Regions from separate parts of the Homo sapiens genome. Here all the other regions are linked to region 2. The links come from fine-mapping of genetic effects on gene expression. A gene starts in region 2. Each other region holds a variant in brackets. All regions are shown on one strand. Distances are between the middles of the regions.

What was found.
Region 1: its variant is fine-mapped to the expression of SLC25A23 in whole blood (INTERVAL, PIP above 0.99).
Region 3: its variant is fine-mapped to the expression of SLC25A23 in left ventricle (GTEx, PIP above 0.99).

The regions. Positions count from the first base shown.
Region 1 is chr19:6,484,836-6,490,807 of GRCh38, reverse strand. No RefSeq gene overlaps it. Among named protein-coding and RNA genes, the nearest start is that of DENND1C, 6.0 kb to the right of the region's middle. RefSeq lists an enhancer at 856-1,125. The variant G/A (reference allele first, on the strand shown) is at 3,683.
Region 2 is chr19:6,456,908-6,462,879 of GRCh38, reverse strand. It overlaps SLC25A23 (solute carrier family 25 member 23), which reads left to right and starts at 3,088. Exons shown (of 10, transcript NM_024103.3): 1 at 3,088-3,407; 2 at 4,556-4,682; 3 at 5,290-5,377. The coding sequence starts at 3,252. RefSeq lists silencers at 2,397-2,576, 3,087-3,226, 3,277-3,336.
Region 3 is chr19:6,436,132-6,442,103 of GRCh38, reverse strand. It overlaps SLC25A23 (solute carrier family 25 member 23), which reads left to right. Exons shown (of 10, transcript NM_024103.3): 10 at 1-2,040. The coding sequence ends at 129. It also overlaps a transcript of SLC25A41 not described here. Among named protein-coding and RNA genes, the nearest start is that of SLC25A41, 5.4 kb to the right of the region's middle. The variant A/C (reference allele first, on the strand shown) is at 2,628.

The DNA of each region.
Region 1 (5,972 bases), 28 kb before region 2:
GGGAGAAAAGAAAGGGAAGGGAACGGAAGGGGAGGGGAGGGGAAGTAAGGGGAGGGGAGGGGAATGTACTGGGCACGGTGGCTCACACCTGTAATCCCAGCACTTTGAGAGGCTGAGGCGGGTGGATCACGAGGTCAGGAGTTCAATACCAGCCTGGCCAACATGGTGAAACCCCGTCTCTACTAAAGGCACAAAAAATTAGCTGGGTATGGTGGCACGCAACTGTAATCCCAGCTACTCAGGAGGCTGAGGCAGGAGAATCACTTGAACCTGGGAGGCAGAGGTTGAAGTGAGCTGAGATCGTGCCATTGCACTTCAGCCTGGGCAACAGAGTGAGACTCTGTCTCAAAAAAAAGAAGGAAAGAAAGAAAAGAAAGAGAGAGAGAAAAGAAAGGAGGGAAGGAAAGAAGGAAGGAAGGAAGAAAAGAAGAAGGCAAGAAGACAGGAAGACAGGAAGGAGGGAAGTAAGGAAGGGAGGGAGGGAGAGAAGAGGGAGGAAGGAAGGAAAGAAGGAAGGAAGGAAAAAATGAAGGAATAAATTACAATTTGCCACACAAAGTCACTTGCCCATGGTCACATGGCTACTAAACAGTGAGCTGGAATTCAAACCCTGCTAGTTGAACCCTAGAATCCTGACACAGGCAGCCAGAGTTCCGTGTGGGGACCATTCTAGGTATATTAAGCAGACAGGAACTTAATACAAGAATCGATGGTGCTTGCAAAATCACTGGAAGACGCTGAGAGAGTGGGCTGTGTAGGCTTCTCAAATTTTACCGTGCAAAAGAATCAGCAGAACAACTTGCTAACGCACAGTTTCTTCAGTCTCACCCCCTCACAGTTGCAGATTCAGTAAGTAGGTCCGGGGTGGGGCTCAAGACTCTGCATTTTTAACAAGTTCTCAGGAGATGCTAAAGATGTGTGAATAAGACCACAGATTGAGCAGCCCCGGAATAGGTAGGACCCTCGTGACACCACAGAGCTGGGTCACCAAGGAGCAGCTCCTTTGTATAGGGAGAAAGGTGGAGAACAAAGAGGCAGTTACCAGAACTATGACCTGGAAATGGGTCCAACAAAGAACACGAATTCATGAAAATAAAATGTATAGCTCCACAACCCTGCTTCTCAGCAAGATATACACACAAGCCCACACTGCCTCACTTCCACTTTCTAAATCTCTCATGAGCATTTCTCATTGGTAGAACCAATTCTGCATCCAGAAACGGAGCAGCAAAGGCATCTGGGAAATGTAGGGGTTGGAGGGGTTTTTTGCAGCGTCTGCATTAGGAAGACGAGCCAGGGGCAAGGGTAGGTGAGAGGGGGACACGCGGAGAGCCAAGCAGTAACGTCCACCACTCTATGCTAGACACCAGGCACCCAGGCTGGAGCCTCAGTCTTCTTGCTACGTCCCCCTGCAGCCAGGAGTAAGGAGAGGCATGAGGGAAGCAGCGTGGACATCAGCCCACGGCAACTTCAGCAGGCCCAGCACAGCACAGCACAGCACTGGGTGGTAGACCAGCAATACAAAGGATTTAGGTAGCAGCATAATGGATAGATCTGGGTTGGGTTCCCCACTCAGCATCCTCCTTCCTTGCACAAGGCACTTAACTACTCAGAAGTGTACGGACTTTTTATTTGCTTTTTTGTTTTTTGTTTTTAGTTTATTAATTATTTATTTATTTATTTATTTTTGAGATGCAGTCTCGCTCTGTTGCCCAGGCTGGAGTGCAGTGGCGCAATCTCGACTCACTGCAAGCTCCGCCTCCCGGGTTCACGCCATTCTCCTGCCTCAGCCTCCCGAGTAGCTGGGACTACAGGCGCCCGCCATGACGCCAGGCTAATTTTTTGTATATTTAGTAGAGATGGGGTTTCACCATGTTAGCCAGGATGGTCTTGATCTCCTGACCTTGTGATCCACCCGCCTCGGCCTCCCAAAGTGCTGGGATTACAGGCGTGAGCCACCGCGCCCGGCCTATTTATTTATTTTTGAGACAGAGTTTCGCTCTTGTTGCCCAGGCTGCAGTGCAGTGGTGCGATCTTGGCTCACTGCAATCTCCACCTCCCAGGTTCAAATGATTCTCCTGCCTCAGCCTCCCAAGTAGCTGGGACTACAGGCACCCACCGCCACACCCGGCTAATTTTTTTTTGTATTTTTAGTAGAGACGGGGTTTCACCATGTTGGCCAGGGGCTGGTCTCGAACTCCTGACCTCAGGTGATCGGCCCGCCTTAGCCTCCCAAAATGCTGAGATTAGGTGTGAGCCACCACACCCAGCCTGGTTTTGTTTGTTTCTTTCTTTCTTTTTTTCTTTTTTTTAAAGTATTTCCCCAAACTTTGATGAGGCAGTTGCTTTGGGGGGTTCAACATTTTTTTTAGTCTCCTTCTGTCACCCAAGCTGGAGCGCAGTGGCACAATCATGGCTTACTGCAGCCTCGACTTCCTGGGCTCAAGTGATCCTCCTACCTCAGCCTCCCAAGTAGCTGGGACTACAGGCATGTGTCACCATGCCAGCTAGCTTTTCTGTAGAGATGGCGTTTCACCATGATACCCAGGCTGGTCAGAGGCTGAGGTGGGAGGATCCCTGAGCTCAAGCAATCCACCCACCTCGGCCTCCCAAAGTGCTGGGATTACAAGAGCAAGCAACCGCGTCCGGCCAGGTGTAGGTTTTTTTGTGTTTGTTTTTGAGACAGAGTCTCACTCTATTGCCTGGAGAGCAGTGGCGTGATCACGATTCACTGCAGCCTCGACCTTCTGGGCTCAAGTAATCCTCCCACCTCAGCCTCCTGATTCGGAACTACAGGCGTGTACCACCACACCCAGCTAATTTTTAATTTTTTTTTTTTTTGAGGTGGAGTCTGACTCTGTCGCCCAGGCTGGAGTGCCATGGCATGATCTCAGCTCACTGCAACCTCCACCTCCCAGGTTCAAGCGATTCTCCTGCCTCAACCTTCCGAGTAGCTGGGATTATAGGCATGCGCCACCACACGTGGCTAATTTCCATATTTTTAGTAGAGATGGGGTTTCACCATGTTGGCCAGGCTGGTCTTGAACTGCTGACCTCAGGTGATCCACCCATCTCAGCCTCCCAAAGTGCTGGGATTACAGGCGTGAGCCACCACAGCTGGCCTGCACCCAGCTATTTTTTTAGATTTTTTTATAGAGACAGGATCTTGATATATTGCCCAGGCTGGTCTTGAACTTCTGGCCTCAGGCGATCCTCAGGCTTCAGCCTCCCAAAGTGCTGGGATTACAGGCGTCAGCCACCATGCCTGGCAAAGTTAAGGATTTTAAGATAACAGGATTATGGCAAATTATTTGGGTGGGTCCAATACAATCACAAGGATCTTTATAAGAGGGAGACAGAGGATCAGAGTCAGAGAAGAAGTGAGGACAAAAGCAGGAGTCCCAGCAAGTGAGAGAGATTTGAAGATAAATGCTACTGGCTCGGCCAGGCACTGTGGCTCACACCTGTAATCCCAGGACTTTGGGAGGCTGAAGCACAAAGATCTCTTGAGGCCAGGAGTTTGAGGCCACCCTAGGCAACATAGCAAGACCCTGTCTCTATGAAAATTGTTCCAATAAGTTAGCTGGGTGTGGTGGCACATTGCTGTAGTCCTAGCTCCTTGGGAGGCTGGGATGGGAGGATAACATGAGCCCAGGAGTTCGAGACTATAGTGAGCTATGAT[G/A]GCACCACTGCACTCCAGCCAGGGCAACAGATGGAGACCCTGTCTCTCAAAAAAATTAAAAATAAAAATAAAAAGGCTAGGCGCAGTGGCTCACACCTGTAATCCCAGCACTTCAGGAGGCTGAGGCAGATGGATCACCTGAGGTCAGGAGTTCCAGACCAGCCTGGCCACATGCTGAAACCCCGTCTCTACTAAAAATACAAAAATAAGCCAGGCGTGGTGACGGGTGCCTGTAATCCCAGCTACTTGGGAGGCTGAGGCAGGAGAATCGCTTGAACCTGGGAAGCGGAGGTTGCAGTGAGCCAAGATCGTGCCATTGCACTCAGCCTGGGCAACAAGAGTGAAACTCCGTCTCAAAAACAACAAAAAAATTAACGATGTGTGGTGGCTGTGCCTATAACCCTAGTTGCTCAAGAGGCTGAGGTGGGAGGATCACTTGAGCCAAGGAGTTACAGGTGGCATTGAGCTATAATGGTACCACTGCACTCCAGCCTAGGAGACACAGAGAGGGAGACCCCATCTCTTAAAATAATTAAAAAAATAAAAACAGGCGGCCGGGCGCGGTGGCTCACGCCTGTAATCCCAGCACTTTGGGAGGCCGAGGCAGGTGAATCACTAAGTCAGGAGATCCAGACCACCTTGGCTAACACGGTGAAACCCCGTCTCTACCAAAAATACAAAAAAATCAGCCAGGCGTGGTGGCGGGCACCTGTAGTCCCAGCTACTCGGGAGGCTGAGGCAGGAGAATGCCATAAATCTGGGAAGTGGAGCTTGCAGTGAGCCAAGATCACGCCACTGCACTCCAGCCTGGGCGACAGTGAGACTTCATCTCAAAAAATAAATAAATAAATAAAATAAAAATAAAAACAGGCTGGGCACTGTGGCTCGTGCTTGTAATCCCATTCACTTTGGAAGACCGAGGCCTGGGGATTGCTGGAGGCCAGAAGTTCAAGACCAGACCAGGCAATAAAGCGAAACCCCATCTCTACAAAAATATTTTTTAAAATTAGCTGAGCTGACCAGGCACGGTGGCTCATACCTGTAATCCCAGCACTTTGGGAGGCCAAGGCGGGCAGATCACTTGAGGTCAGGAGTTCAAGACCAGCCTGGCCAACATGGGGAAACCAGATCTCTACTAAAACACACACACAAAAATTAGCCGGGCGTGGTGGCGGTCACCTGTAATCCCAGCTATTCGGGAAGCTGAGGCAGGAGAATTGCTTGAACCCAGGAGGCAGAGGTTGCAATGATTGCGCCACTGTACTCCAGCCAGCCTGGGTGACAGAGCAAGGCTCCGTCTCACAAAAAAAAAAAAAAAAAAAAAAAAAGGGCCGGGCGTGGTGGCTCATGGCTGTAATCCCAGTACTTTTGGAGGCCGAGGCGGGTGGATCAGTGGATCACGAGGTCAGGAGTCCAAGACCAGCTTGGCCAAGATGGTGAAACCCCACCTCTACTAAAAATACAAAAATTAGCTGGGTGCGGTGGCAGACGCCTATAATCCCAGCTACTTGGGAGGCTGAGGCAGGAGAATCGCTTGAACCCAGGAGGCAGAGGTTGCAATGAGTGAAGATCGTGCCACTGCACTCCAGCCTGGGTGACAGAGTGAGACCCTGTCTCAAAAATAAAATTAAATTAAATTTAAAAAAAAAAACAGTTGTGTGTACAGTAGCACACAACTGTAGTCCCAGCTACTCAGGGGGCTGAGGTGGGAGGATCACTTGAGCCCAGGAGGTCAAGGCTACAGTGAGCTATGATGGCGCCACTGCACGTCGGCCTGGGTGACAGAGTGTGACCCCATCTCTCTTTTTTTTTGGGTAGGGGGATGGAGTTTCGCTCTTATCACCCAGGCTGGAGTACAATAGCACGATCTTGGCTCACTACAACTCCCAGGTTCAAGCGATTCTCCTGCCTCAGCCTCCCAAGTAGCTAGCTACATAGCCACGCATGGTGGTACAGATCTGTAGTCCCAGCTACTTGGGAAGCTGAGTCAGGAGAATCACTTGAACCTGGGAGGCAGAGGTTGCAGATATTTTGTCATAGCAGCCTTAATTTTTTTTTTTTTTAACATAGAGTCTTGCTCTGTCACTCGCTGGAATGCAGTGGTGCAATCAAAGTTCACTGTAGGCTTGAACTCCTGGGCTCAAGTGATCCTCCCGCCTTAGCCTCCCAAGTAGCCGGGACTACAGGCGCTATCACCACACCTAGCTCAAACCTCTTTTTATTTATTTATTTATTTATTTTTATTTTTTTATTTTTTACTTTCCCGAGACAGAGTCTCTCTCTGCTGCCC
Region 2 (5,972 bases):
CAAAAATTAGCTAGCGTAGTGGTGGGCGCCTGTAATCCTAGCTACTTGGGAGGCTGAGGCAGGAGAATCGCTTGAACCCTGGAGGCGGAGGTTGCAGTGAGCCGAGATCACGCCACTGCACTCTAGCCTGGGTGACAGAGCAAGACTGTCAAAAAAAGAAAAGAAATATAACCAAATGGATACATACCACCAGGGTGGACAGTATCTCTATAGAACACGCCTGCATTATCATCACAAACAGCTAACTAAGGCACTCTGATGTGGAATAGACCTGTTTTAGGAACATATCTGCATGGCTCACCTATGAAATGTACGGCACTTGCATTGGGGGAATTCCTGGGTGTCAGTGTCTTGTAAATACCTGTATGAGACACACCTGCATTTACGTAAACCTGTATGGGACTCGGTTGTATGGAAACATACCCAGATGGGTGTATACTTAACTGAAACACACCTACGGGGCGGGAGACTGTAGAATGCATTCATGGGTGGAGGGAAACCTGCTCAGAAACATACCTGTGAGGTAAGAGAAAGCACCTTGTAGGAGGAACACCTGTATGGAATTGAGCTCAAGTGAGGGGAAGAACTTGGAACATCTGCACGGGGCACACTCACATTGACACACATCTGTGGGTAAAACCATCAGGGCAGGGGCTCACATACACTGAGGCCCACCTGTCAAGAATGTATCTGTGAGAAAACACCTATTTAGGGGCACTTACATGGAAAAAAACCTCTGTATCACTCCATGCTGTATGGCACCTGCAAGGAACAACTGTAAATGAAAACCTCTGCTGGGGAGCCTCTTAGAAGAGACTCATTTGTCTGGGGCACACCTGTTCCAGCACACCTGTCTAGGCAGAGGCTGGGCGTGAACTAAATATGCCCTCACGACTGTATCTTTGTTTTCTTTCCTTTTTAAAAAAAATAATAATAATTATTATTATTATTTGTAGAGTTGGGTGTCTTGCTATATTGCCCAGGCCGGTCTCAAACTCCTGACCCCAAGCGATCCTCCCATCTCGGCCTCTCAAATTGCTAGAATTAGAGGCCTAAGCCACCGAGACCGGCCAATGCTGTATCTTTGGATAAAGGATGATGATAATAACAAGACCCCCTCCTGAGGACCCTTGGGTGACAAGTGATGATTAAAGAATAATTAGGCCAGGCCGGGCGCGGTGACTCACGCCTGTAATCCCAGCACTTTGGGAGGCTGAAGCGGGAGGATAATCTGAGGTCAGGTGTTCGAGACCAGCCTGGTCCACAGGTGAAACCCCCCCCCCCCGTCTCTAATAAAAATACAAAACTCACGGCTGCGGTCGGGCATGGTGGCTCATGCCTGTAATCCCAGCACTTTGGGAGGCCGAGGCGGGCGGATCACGAGGTCAGGAGTTTGAGACCAGCCTAACCAACATGGTGAAACCCCGTCTCTACTAAAAATACAAAAATTAGCCGGGCGTGGTGGTGTGCGCCTGTAATCTCAGCTACTTGGGAGGCTGAGGCGGGAGCATTGCTTGAACCCGGGAGGCGGAGGTTGTGGTGAGCTGAGATCGTGCCATTGCACTCCAGCCTGGGCAATAAGAGCGAAACTCCATCTCAAAAAAAAAAAAAAAAAAAAAAAAAAAAAAAAAAAAAAAAAAAAAAAACTCACTGCTGCGTGCGATGGCTCACGCCTATAATCCCAGCACTTTGGGAGGCTGAGGCGGGCGGATCACGAGGTCAGGAGTTCGAGACCAGCCTGGCCAACATGGTGAAACCCCGTCTCCACTAAAAATACAAAAATTAGCTGGGTTTGGTGGCGGGCGCCTGTAATCCCAGCTACTCGGGAGGCTGAGGCAAAAGAATCGTTTGAATCCGGGAGGCGGAGGTTGCAGTGAGCCGAGATCGCGCCATTGCACTCCAGCCTGAGCAACAACAGCGAAACTCCGTTTCAAAAAAAAAAAAAAAAAAAAGATAATTAATTCTTTCTAGGGTATAGAGTGATGGTTAAGGATCCCAGATCTCTTTAAACCCTGTTTTGCCCCTTAGTGGTCATCAGGACTGGGGAGAATGACTTAACCTCCGCTTCCTTATCTGCAAAGTGCGAACGCCAGTACCACCTACCTTATAGGGTTTTGGCAAAGACGACTCGAGAGGTGAGTAAAAGCCCTGGCATGTGCAAAGCACTGAATCAAAGTGAGATTTGTTATCGAGTATTCGCTGTCAAGTGGTCTGGGCTCCCTTCCCCCTAATGGTGGATCGAGAAACTGCGCCCGAAACTAGCAGTAGGGACATTCCGCAGGTGCAGCGAGTGCGACAGGCTGGGGCCCTGCCTCCAGCGCTCGACCACTGGGATCCTCAACCCCGCGCCCGGGTCACTGAGCCACCCCCTCCCCACGCCGCTCAGCGTCTGATTGCGGCCGCGGCCCCTTTAAGATCTCCTGGCAGGCGGTGGGACTGCGGGCTGGAGGCAGTCGGGGGTCTGCGGGGAGGCCCCGCCTAGGTGGGAGAAGAGGCGGGGCGGGCGGGCTCAGCCCAGGAGGCGCTGACCAATAGGAAACCGACTTTGCAGCCGCGCCGCGCGTTGATTTTCTGTTTCCCAGTCAGAGTGGGAACCGAGAAAGGAAGCGCGCGGGCGGGAAGAAGGGACAGTGGGAGAGCATCGCTCCTGGATCTTCTGTTTCTGCGGCCGAGCGGGGAAGGTGTAAGGCGCGGGCGGGCAGAGAGCGAGCGAGATGGTGCACGGTTCTTGCGTGCGTCTGGGAAAAGCGAGAACTTGAGTTCCTGAAGATTAGTGGGTGTGGCGGGGAGGTCAAGTGGAAGGGGATTATGAAACCCAATCCCCGACAGCGCTCTACCTTGCCCCCTTGGGCAAAGGGGGAAAGGGTAAACTGAGGCACGCAGAGGCGGAACTCTGAAACCAGACCTGAGACCACTGAGCTCCCTAGCCCGTCTTCCCAGAAGGAACTCTGGTGTTCCTCGGCTGTGCAATACCAGACCATCCCAGACATTCCCTCCCCACGCCCCCAGCTCCGCCCTCGGTCCCCTCCCCCCAATGCAGGTCGGGGGAGGAGACGCAAGTTCTGGCGCGGGCGGCGACGGCTAGCCGTCACCACCTCCCGCAAGTGCCAGAGCCGAGCGGACTGCGCGGAGGCTGCGGAGCCGGCGGCCGCGGGAGCTGACCCTGCGGGGTCCCGGGGGGGGAGGGGGAGCCGCGAAGCCCCCACTGAGGCCGCCGCTGCCGGGCCTCCCCTCCCCCCCGGGCGGGCGCCATGCGGGGGAGCCCGGGCGACGCGGAGCGGCGGCAGCGCTGGGGTCGCCTGTTCGAGGAGCTGGACAGTAACAAGGATGGCCGCGTGGACGTGCACGAGTTGCGCCAGGGGCTGGCCAGGCTGGGCGGGGGCAACCCAGACCCCGGCGCCCAACAGGTACCCCCACCCCCAGGGACCTCCTCCCCTCCCGGCCCCGCCCGCTCCCGGTTACCCAAGCCCCTGAACTGGGCGGCCGGAGCCACCAGGGACTACCTGTGGCTGGACTCCAGAACCTGTGTCTCTGTCTCGTTCCCCCTACCCACTCGTGTTTGGCCTAACGGGATCGCTCAAGACAGGGACGCCGAGGCCCCAAGCCTGCAGTTCCGCGGCCAACACCCGATCCCCCTGCTGCGGGGCAGGGGGCGTCTGCCTGGGAAGAGATGGGGGCGCTTTCCTGCCCACTGCCCGGGACACACCCTCCTCCAGACTGCACAGCCCATGACGTGCCCTGCTCTCACCTCCAGGAGACACACCCTCCATCCTCTGGGCACCTACTGCCCTGGCCTGCAGCTGCCCCGATCCCTGTGTTTACATTCCCTGGCCTGCCCTTTCATGGGCCGTTCACGGGCCTGGCTCACTGTCCCGGGCTGCCCCAGCCAGGGACCCAATCCTGTCTGCGGTCACCCGCAGCTGGGAATGCACCTATAACAAGACTTTCCTCCCGCTGCCCCCACCTCCACTTTGCAGGTCCTTCCCACACCTGTAGCCCCAGATCGCTCTAAGAGAACCACAGCAACCCTGAGAGCAGTCCAACCTCCCACTTCCCAAATGGGAAAAACCAAGGCCTCAGCCACTCCGCTTGGTTCTCTCCTGCCCCACATCGCCCAGGGCTTCCTCCAAAGGGAACCCCTGGGTCCCCCATGTGGACAGGGTTTTTTAAGAGGCAGCTGGGTTCAACAGGAATGAGATACCTAAAAAAATAACAAAAACTAAAAACAAGAGACAGCTGGAAGGACAGGCTTTACAGATGAGAACTGAGGTTACCATTTCCTGGTTCTGTGACCTTGAACTGGTGACTTGACCTTGCAGAGCCTCAGTTTGCTCACCAGGAAAACTAGACCACTCACACCCACCGCACAGACCTGTGGTGGCTGTAGGGATCTGGCTGAGAAGTTAGCTGACTGAGGGAGAAGTGGGGTGACGTCTTCTATCCCCTTCCTCAAGGCGCTGGGGGCTCTGGGTTCCTAAGGCATAAGGTGACATGCGTCCCCTCCAGATCAGGAGCAGGTTCCTGGAGCCACCTCTATCCCCTTTCCCTCTGTCAGGGTATCTCCTCTGAGGGTGATGCTGACCCAGATGGCGGGCTCGACCTGGAGGAATTTTCCCGCTATCTGCAGGAGCGGGAACAGCGTCTGCTGCTCATGTTTCACAGTCTTGACCGGAACCAGGATGGTAAGGTCGGGCGACCTGCCTGCAGGCCCCAAGGGATAGGGCTGTGGGGGCCCTAGAGACATCAGTGGGGTTAGAACTGGCAGCGCTAGGAGGAGAGGGGGAGGGCCGCTTCTCCCCGATGACTCATAGGCTATTTCAGGAGCACTCCTCACCCCCTAGCTAGGTGGTTCGAGGCCCAGCCAGCCCATCCCACCTCCTTTCCCTACTGGGGCAGAACCCCGATAATTACCCTTAGATTTTTCTATGGGGCAAAGATACCCTATGCTGTTCCTGGGTCCCCTGTGGGACAGAGATCCCCTCATAGCAGCATCTGGGTTGTGGATATTGCCTCTCAATCCCCCATGGCATAGAGACCCCTACAATTACCCCTGGATTCCTTCATTCATTTACAGAACAGAGAAGCCCCCCCAGTATTTCCCAGTTCCACCTCTCTGACCCCAGTGAGTCAGGGGTCCCCCCACAGCCCTACTGCAAACCTCCTCCTAGGTTTCTGGAGCCCCTGATCTTGCTAGACCACCTCCATTCCAAGCTGTTCTGATCCTTGGTCCTGGGGTTCCCCAGGTGTCCTCACACGCACATCCTTCCCCACCTCCGGCCCCCTCCCCAGGTCACATTGATGTCTCTGAGATCCAACAGAGTTTCCGAGCTCTGGGCATTTCCATCTCGCTGGAGCAGGCTGAGAAAATTTTGCACAGGTGAGTCGCTGGGGGTCTGGAATCCAAAGTAACTCAGGACACAGTGACCCCTTGGCCATCTCTGTCTTCTGGGCTCCAGACCCAGTCCCAAGGAGGATACAGCTGAGAGGTTGGGGCTTTGAAGTCAGACAGATCTGGCCAGGCGCAGTGGCTCACATCTGTAACCCCAGCACTTTGGGAGGCTGAGGCAGGTGGATCACCTGAGGTCAGGAGTTGGGGACCAGCCTGGCCAACATGGTAAAACCCCATCTCTACTAAAAATACAAACATTGGCCAGGCGTGGTGGTGCATGCCTGTAATTCCAGCTACTTGGGGAGGCTGAGGCACGGGAATCCCTTAAACCCAAGAGGTGGAGGTTGCAGTGAGCCAAGATCAGGCCAGGACACTCTAACCAGGGTGACGGAGTGAGACTCCTTCTGGAAAAAAAAAAAAAAAAAGAAAGAAAAATTCAAATTGAAGCCAGACAGATCTGGGACCAGTTGCCTCTCTTAGCCCGTTTCCCCCTCTACAAAATGAGGGTAATACAGCTGGCTATGGTGGCTCACGCCTGCAATCCTGCCACTTTGGAAGGCCGAGGCAGGTGGATCACGAGGTC
Region 3 (5,972 bases), 21 kb after region 2:
TCCCAGGAGGGCATGCGGGGCCTCTACCGGGGGATCGCCCCCAACTTCATGAAGGTTATTCCAGCTGTGAGCATCTCCTATGTGGTCTACGAGAACATGAAGCAGGCCTTGGGGGTCACGTCCAGGTGAGGGACCCGGAGCCCGTCCCCCCAATCCCTCACCCCCCACACCTCAGCCACTGGAGACTGATGATCCAACCACAGGATCCCTACTCTTTGGCCACGAGATCCCAGTACCCAGATCCTGGATCCTAGACTCCTATGCCCCAACCATTGGGTCATGGGATCCCAGCATCCAGATCCTGGATCCTAGACTCCTATGCCCCAACCACTGGGTCATGCGATCCCCACCCTTCAGCCACTAGATCCCAGATCCCCCTGTAACCATAACTGTGGATCCCTTACTTCAGCAACTCAAGTCTGCTACCCTAACCACAAGATTCAAGATTATCCACACCCCAGCCCTTAATCCCCATCCCCCAAATCACTGGATCCTGCAGCCCCACATCCTAAGGTGGATCCCACGCTTCCCTGTGCCCCCTACTGGATCCTGGACCTCTACGTCTTAACCACTGGATCCCACACAAATCAGTGAATGGATCCCAACACCCCAACCACAGGAGCACGGATTCCCTGTACCTCAACACCCAGACCCTGCCTCCCTCAGGCACCAGATCCAGTGTCCTAGTGAAACGCTGGATCCTAGATCCCCAACCCCAGATCCCCATGCCTCGAGCCCTGGATCTCCAAGCTCAGCTGCTGGATTCTGGATGTCAACAAACCTCACCACTGGATCCTGACAACCACAATGCCTGGATCCTGGGGCCCCCATCACTGGATCCCAGATCCCCTCACTCCACCCACTGGATTCCTGCATTGGTTTTTGGTTTTTTGTTTTTTTTTAACCTCGACACTGGGTCTCAGATCCTTCTGCTGACTGCCAGATCCCTGCATTTCAAGCACTACGCCTTCCACCCCCAGGCACTGGATCCCAGATTCCCAAGCCTTCACCCACCAGATTCTGGCTCCTAAAACAAGTGCGGGGGCCCCAGTGGCACAGCAAGTGGATCCTGGCAACTGCAGCTGCTGGATTCCAGATTCTGGGTCCCCAATCCCTCTGCCCAGTCCCTCAATGTTGAAACCTCATCTCTTGAAGGCAGATCCTGATATTCCAAGGCACTGAATCCCAAGCCCTGAATCCCCGGTTTCTGATCTGAATCTTCCAGGCGCCGGGTCCCAAATGTTCAGGCCCCAAGTCTAGATCCTGGCAGCCCAGTCACAGAGTATCCCACACACACTGGTGCCCAGAGCCGGCTTCTCATGACATGAAATTGCATGGTCGAGGGAGTCTGTGGGGAAGGAAGCCCAGGTCCTGGCTGCAACCTGCACGGATGCTGGATTCCCCCTCACCCCACCTCTGCATGGCCACCCCCTCCCAGCCCTGTGGGGAAACTGTTCCCTGGAACCACTCCACTCCCTGCATCCCCACACTTCACAGCATCTTCCATCCCCCTCCCACCTTCTAGGCGAATAGTCCCCAGAGCTGTGTTCCTCCAAGGGGTCCGAGGAATCACTCACTCCTGGAGGCTGGCAAGGAGACAGTCTGAGGCCAGGGACACATGAAGGGATGTCCCCACCCCAGCACTATCAGGGCCTCCCCAGGCTTCCAGAGTTGAAAGCCAGGAGAAAATCGGCAAAGACCACCCTTCCCTAAACCCAAGCACCCAATGATGCAAAAAACAAAAACAAAAAAAAACCACCAAATCCCCAAATTCATTCCAGATCTATTTTTCTACCAGAGAGAGGAGCAAAGTCCTCCTCCCCTGCGCCCTTACATTCTGCACTTCATAGTTGGATTCTGAGCTTAGGATCATCTGGAGACCCCATGGAGGGACTTGGAAAGGGGAACTGGGATTTGGGGAGGGGCTGGAGGACTTCCGCACGCTTCCACCTCCTTCGACCTCCACTGCGCCCCACCTCCCTGCCTGTGTGTGTTATTTCAAAGGAAAAGAACAAAAGGAATAAATTTTCTAAGCTCTTTTATTGTGGTTTTTACTGAAAAGGGGGTGGGTGGCTATGGGACCACCTTAGTCTACCCCTAGGGAAGGGACAAGGGGCTGCTTCCCAACACCCACAGTTCCAAGAGCCAGGAAATGATTCCCTCTTTGAGCCTCAGTTTACACATCTATAAAATGGGAGCAGGGGAGGGAGTCCCTGTTTATAACCCCTTCTAAATTTTCTGGGCTTTATTATTTTTATTTATTTATTTATTTTTGAGATGGAGTCTCACTCTGTTGCCCAGGCTGGAGGGCAGTGGCACGGTCTCAGCTCACTGCAACCTCTGCCTCCCGGGTTCAAGCGATTCTCCTACCTCAGCCTCCTGAGTAGCTGGGATTACAGGCACCCACCACCACGCCCGGCTAATTTTTTGTATTTTTAGGAGAGACAGGGTTTTACCATGTTGGCCAGGCTGGTCTCGAACTCCTGACCTCAAGTGATCCACCTGCCTCAGCCTCCCAAAATGCTGGGATTACAGGCGTGAGCCACCACGCCCGGCCTCTGTATTTTTTTTCAAATTACAAATTTCAATTTTTTTTCAAATTATCCTTTTCCTAGGGCTGCCAGACC[A/C]AATTATCACAAACAGAATGGCTTAAAACAATTTGTGTGTCTGTGTGTGTGTGTGTGTGTGTGTGTGTGTGTGTGTGAGAGAGAGAGAGAGATAGGATCTCACTCTGCAGCCCAGGTTAGAGGGTAGTGGTACAATCGTACCTGACTGCAGCCTCGAATTCCTGTGCTCAAGCGATCCTCCCACCACAGCCTCCTGAGTATCTGGGACCACAGGGACCGCAGGCACACGCACCGTTATGTCCAGCTAATTTATTTTTGAGACAGGGTCTCGCTCTGTCACCCAGGCTGGAGTGCAGTGGTGCGATCTCGGCTCACTGCAGCTTACACCTCCTGGGCTCAAGTGATCCTCCCACCTCAGCCTCCCAAGTAGCTAGGACTATAGGCAACCACCACCATGCCCAACTTTTTGTTTGTTTCTGTGCTTGCTTGTTTGTTTGTGATGCAGTCTCGCTCTGTCGCCCAGGCTGTAGTGCAGTGACACGATCTCGGCTCACTGCCACCTCTGCCTCCCAGGTTCAAGCAATTCTCCCACCTCAGCCTCCCGAGCAGCTAGAACCACAGGCATATGCCACCATGCCTGGCTAATTTCTTGTTTGGTTGGTTGGTTTTTTGTTTTTGTTTTTTTTGATATAGGAGTCTTGCTCTTGTTTCCCAGGCTGGAGTACAGTGGCTCGATTTCAGATCACTGCAACCTCTGCCTTCCAGGTTCAAGCGATTCTCCTGCCTCAGCCTCCAGAGTAGCTGGTATTACAGGTGCGCACCACCACACCCGGCTAATTTTTGTATTTTTAGTAGAGACCAGGTATTCCCGTGTTGGCCAGGCTGGTCTCGAACTCCTGACCTCAGGTGATTTGCCTACCTCAGCCTCCCAAAGTGCTGGGATTACAGGTGTGAGCCACCGTGCCTGGCCTAATTATTATTACTTCTTTTTTGTGGAAATAGGATTTCATCATGTTGCCCAGGCTCATCTCGAACTCGTGGGGTCAAGGAATTCGCCAGCCTTCAGCCTCCCAACGTGCTGGGATTACAGGTGTGAGCCACATGGTCCTTGGTGTTCCTTGGTTTATGATAGACTCATCACTCCACTGCCTGCCTATCTTCATACTGTATGCTCCCTTATGTGTGTCTGTGTCTCTCTGCCCAAATTTCCATCCTTTTTTTCAGATGCAGTTTCGCTCTGTTTCCCAGGCTGGAGTGCAATGACGTGATCTCAGCTCACTGCAACCTCCGCTTCCCGGGTTCAAGTGATCCTCCTGCCTCAGCCTCCAGAATAGCTGGGATTACAGGTGCACACCACCACAACTGGCTAATTTTTGCATTTTTAGTAGAGACGGGGTTTCACTATGCTGGTCTTGAACTCCTGACCTCAAGTGATCCACCCGCCTCGGCCTCCCAAAGTGCAAATTCCAAGTTTGTTTTTTTTTTTTTTTTTGGAGTGCAGTGGCACGATCTCGGCTCACTGCAAGCTCCGCCTCCCGGGTTCATGCCATTCTCTTGCCTCAGCCTCCCAAGTAGCTGGGACTACAGGCACCCGCCACCACAGCCAGCTAATTTTTTTTTTTTTTTGTATTTTTAGTAGAGATGGGGTTTCACCATGTTAGCCAGGATGCCTCCCAAAGTGCTGGGATTATAGGCATGAGCCACCGCGCCCGGCCTTTTTTTTTTTCTGAGATGGAGTCTTGCTCTGTCGCCTAGGCTGGAGTGCACTGGCGCGATCTTGGCTCACTGCAAGCTCCGCCTCCTGGGTTCATGCCATTCTCCTGCCTCAGCCTCCCAAGTAGCTGGGACTACAGGCACCCGCCACCATGCCCAGCTAATTTTTTGTATTTTTAGTAGAGACGGGGTTTCACCATGTTAGCCAGGATGGTCTTGAACTCCTGACCTCGTGATCCGCCTGCCTCAGCCTCCCAAAGTGTTGGGATTACAGGCGTGAGCCACTGCGCCTGGCCGATTCCATGTCTTGTAAGGACAGCAGTCATCGGATTAGGGCAACCCCCCCCAATCCAGTGTAACCTCATTTTAATTTGATTATATCTACAAAGACCGTATTTCCAAATAAGGTCACATTTGCAGGTTACTGGGGTTAGGGCTTGAACACATCTTTTTGGGGGACAAAGTTCAACCCACAATGAGTAATTCAAATTTATTGTGGAAAAAATAGAAAATTCAGGGTGGGTGGGGTAGCTCATATCTGTAAACCCAGCACTTTGGGAGGTCGGGGTGGGAGGATCGCTTGAGGCCAGGAGTTTGAGACCAGCCTGGGCAACACAGTGAGACCCCATTTCTACAAAAAATTTTTCAATTAGCTGGGCATGATGGCATATACCTGTAGTTCCAGCTGCTCAGGAGGCTGAGATGGGAGGATGACTTGAGCTCAGGAGTTCAAGGTCACTTGAGCCCAGGAGTTTGAGACCAGCCTGGCCAACATGGTGAAACCCCGTCTCTACTAAAAATACAAAAATTAGCCGGGCATGGTGTCACATGCCTGTGATCCCAGCTACTCGGAAGGCTGAGGCAGGACAATCACTTGAACCCAGGAGGTGGAGGTTGCAGTGAGCCAAGATTGGTCCATTGCACTCCAGCCTGGGTAACAGAGCAAGACTCCATCTCAAAAAATAAAAAAATAAAAGATTGGGTGCAGTGGCTCACGTCTATAATCCTAGCATTTTGGGAGGCCGAGGCGGGTGAATCACCTGAGGTCAGGAGTTCGAGACCAGCCTGGCCAACATGGCAACCCCGTCTCTACTAGAAGTACAAAAATTAGCCGGACGTGGTGGCGGGCACCTATAATCCCAGCTACTCAGGAGGCTGAGGCAGGAGAATTGCTTGAACCTGGGTGGCAGAGGTTGCAGTGAGTCGAGATTGTGCCACTGCACTCCAGCCTGGGCAACAAGAGCAAAACTATGTCTCAAAGAAAAAAAAAAAAAGACACTGTCGCTGCCATCCTGGTTATTGGTTACATGCTCTCTCTCTCTCTCTCCCCCTTTCTCATAACATTTGCTCTGGAGGAAGCCGGTGGTCATGCCATGAGCAGCCTTATGGAGAGGACCATGTGGTAAGGAACTCAGCCAATAGCCATGTAACTGAGCTTGGAAGAGGATCTTGCTGTCCTGGCCAACATCTCACTGCAATTCTATCAGTTGAATTCCCTGGATAGTCCAAGCTTTGTGGATCCCTCCACCGAAACAACTGGATCCCAGTACCTGAATCCTGAATCTTAGACTCTTATACTTCAAACACTGATCACGGGAACAGCCGGCTCAGCGGCTCCTGAGTTCCTAATGCTCAGAATATGGGTGAGATGATAAATGTTTGTTGTGTTAAGCTGCCAACCTTTGGCGGGGG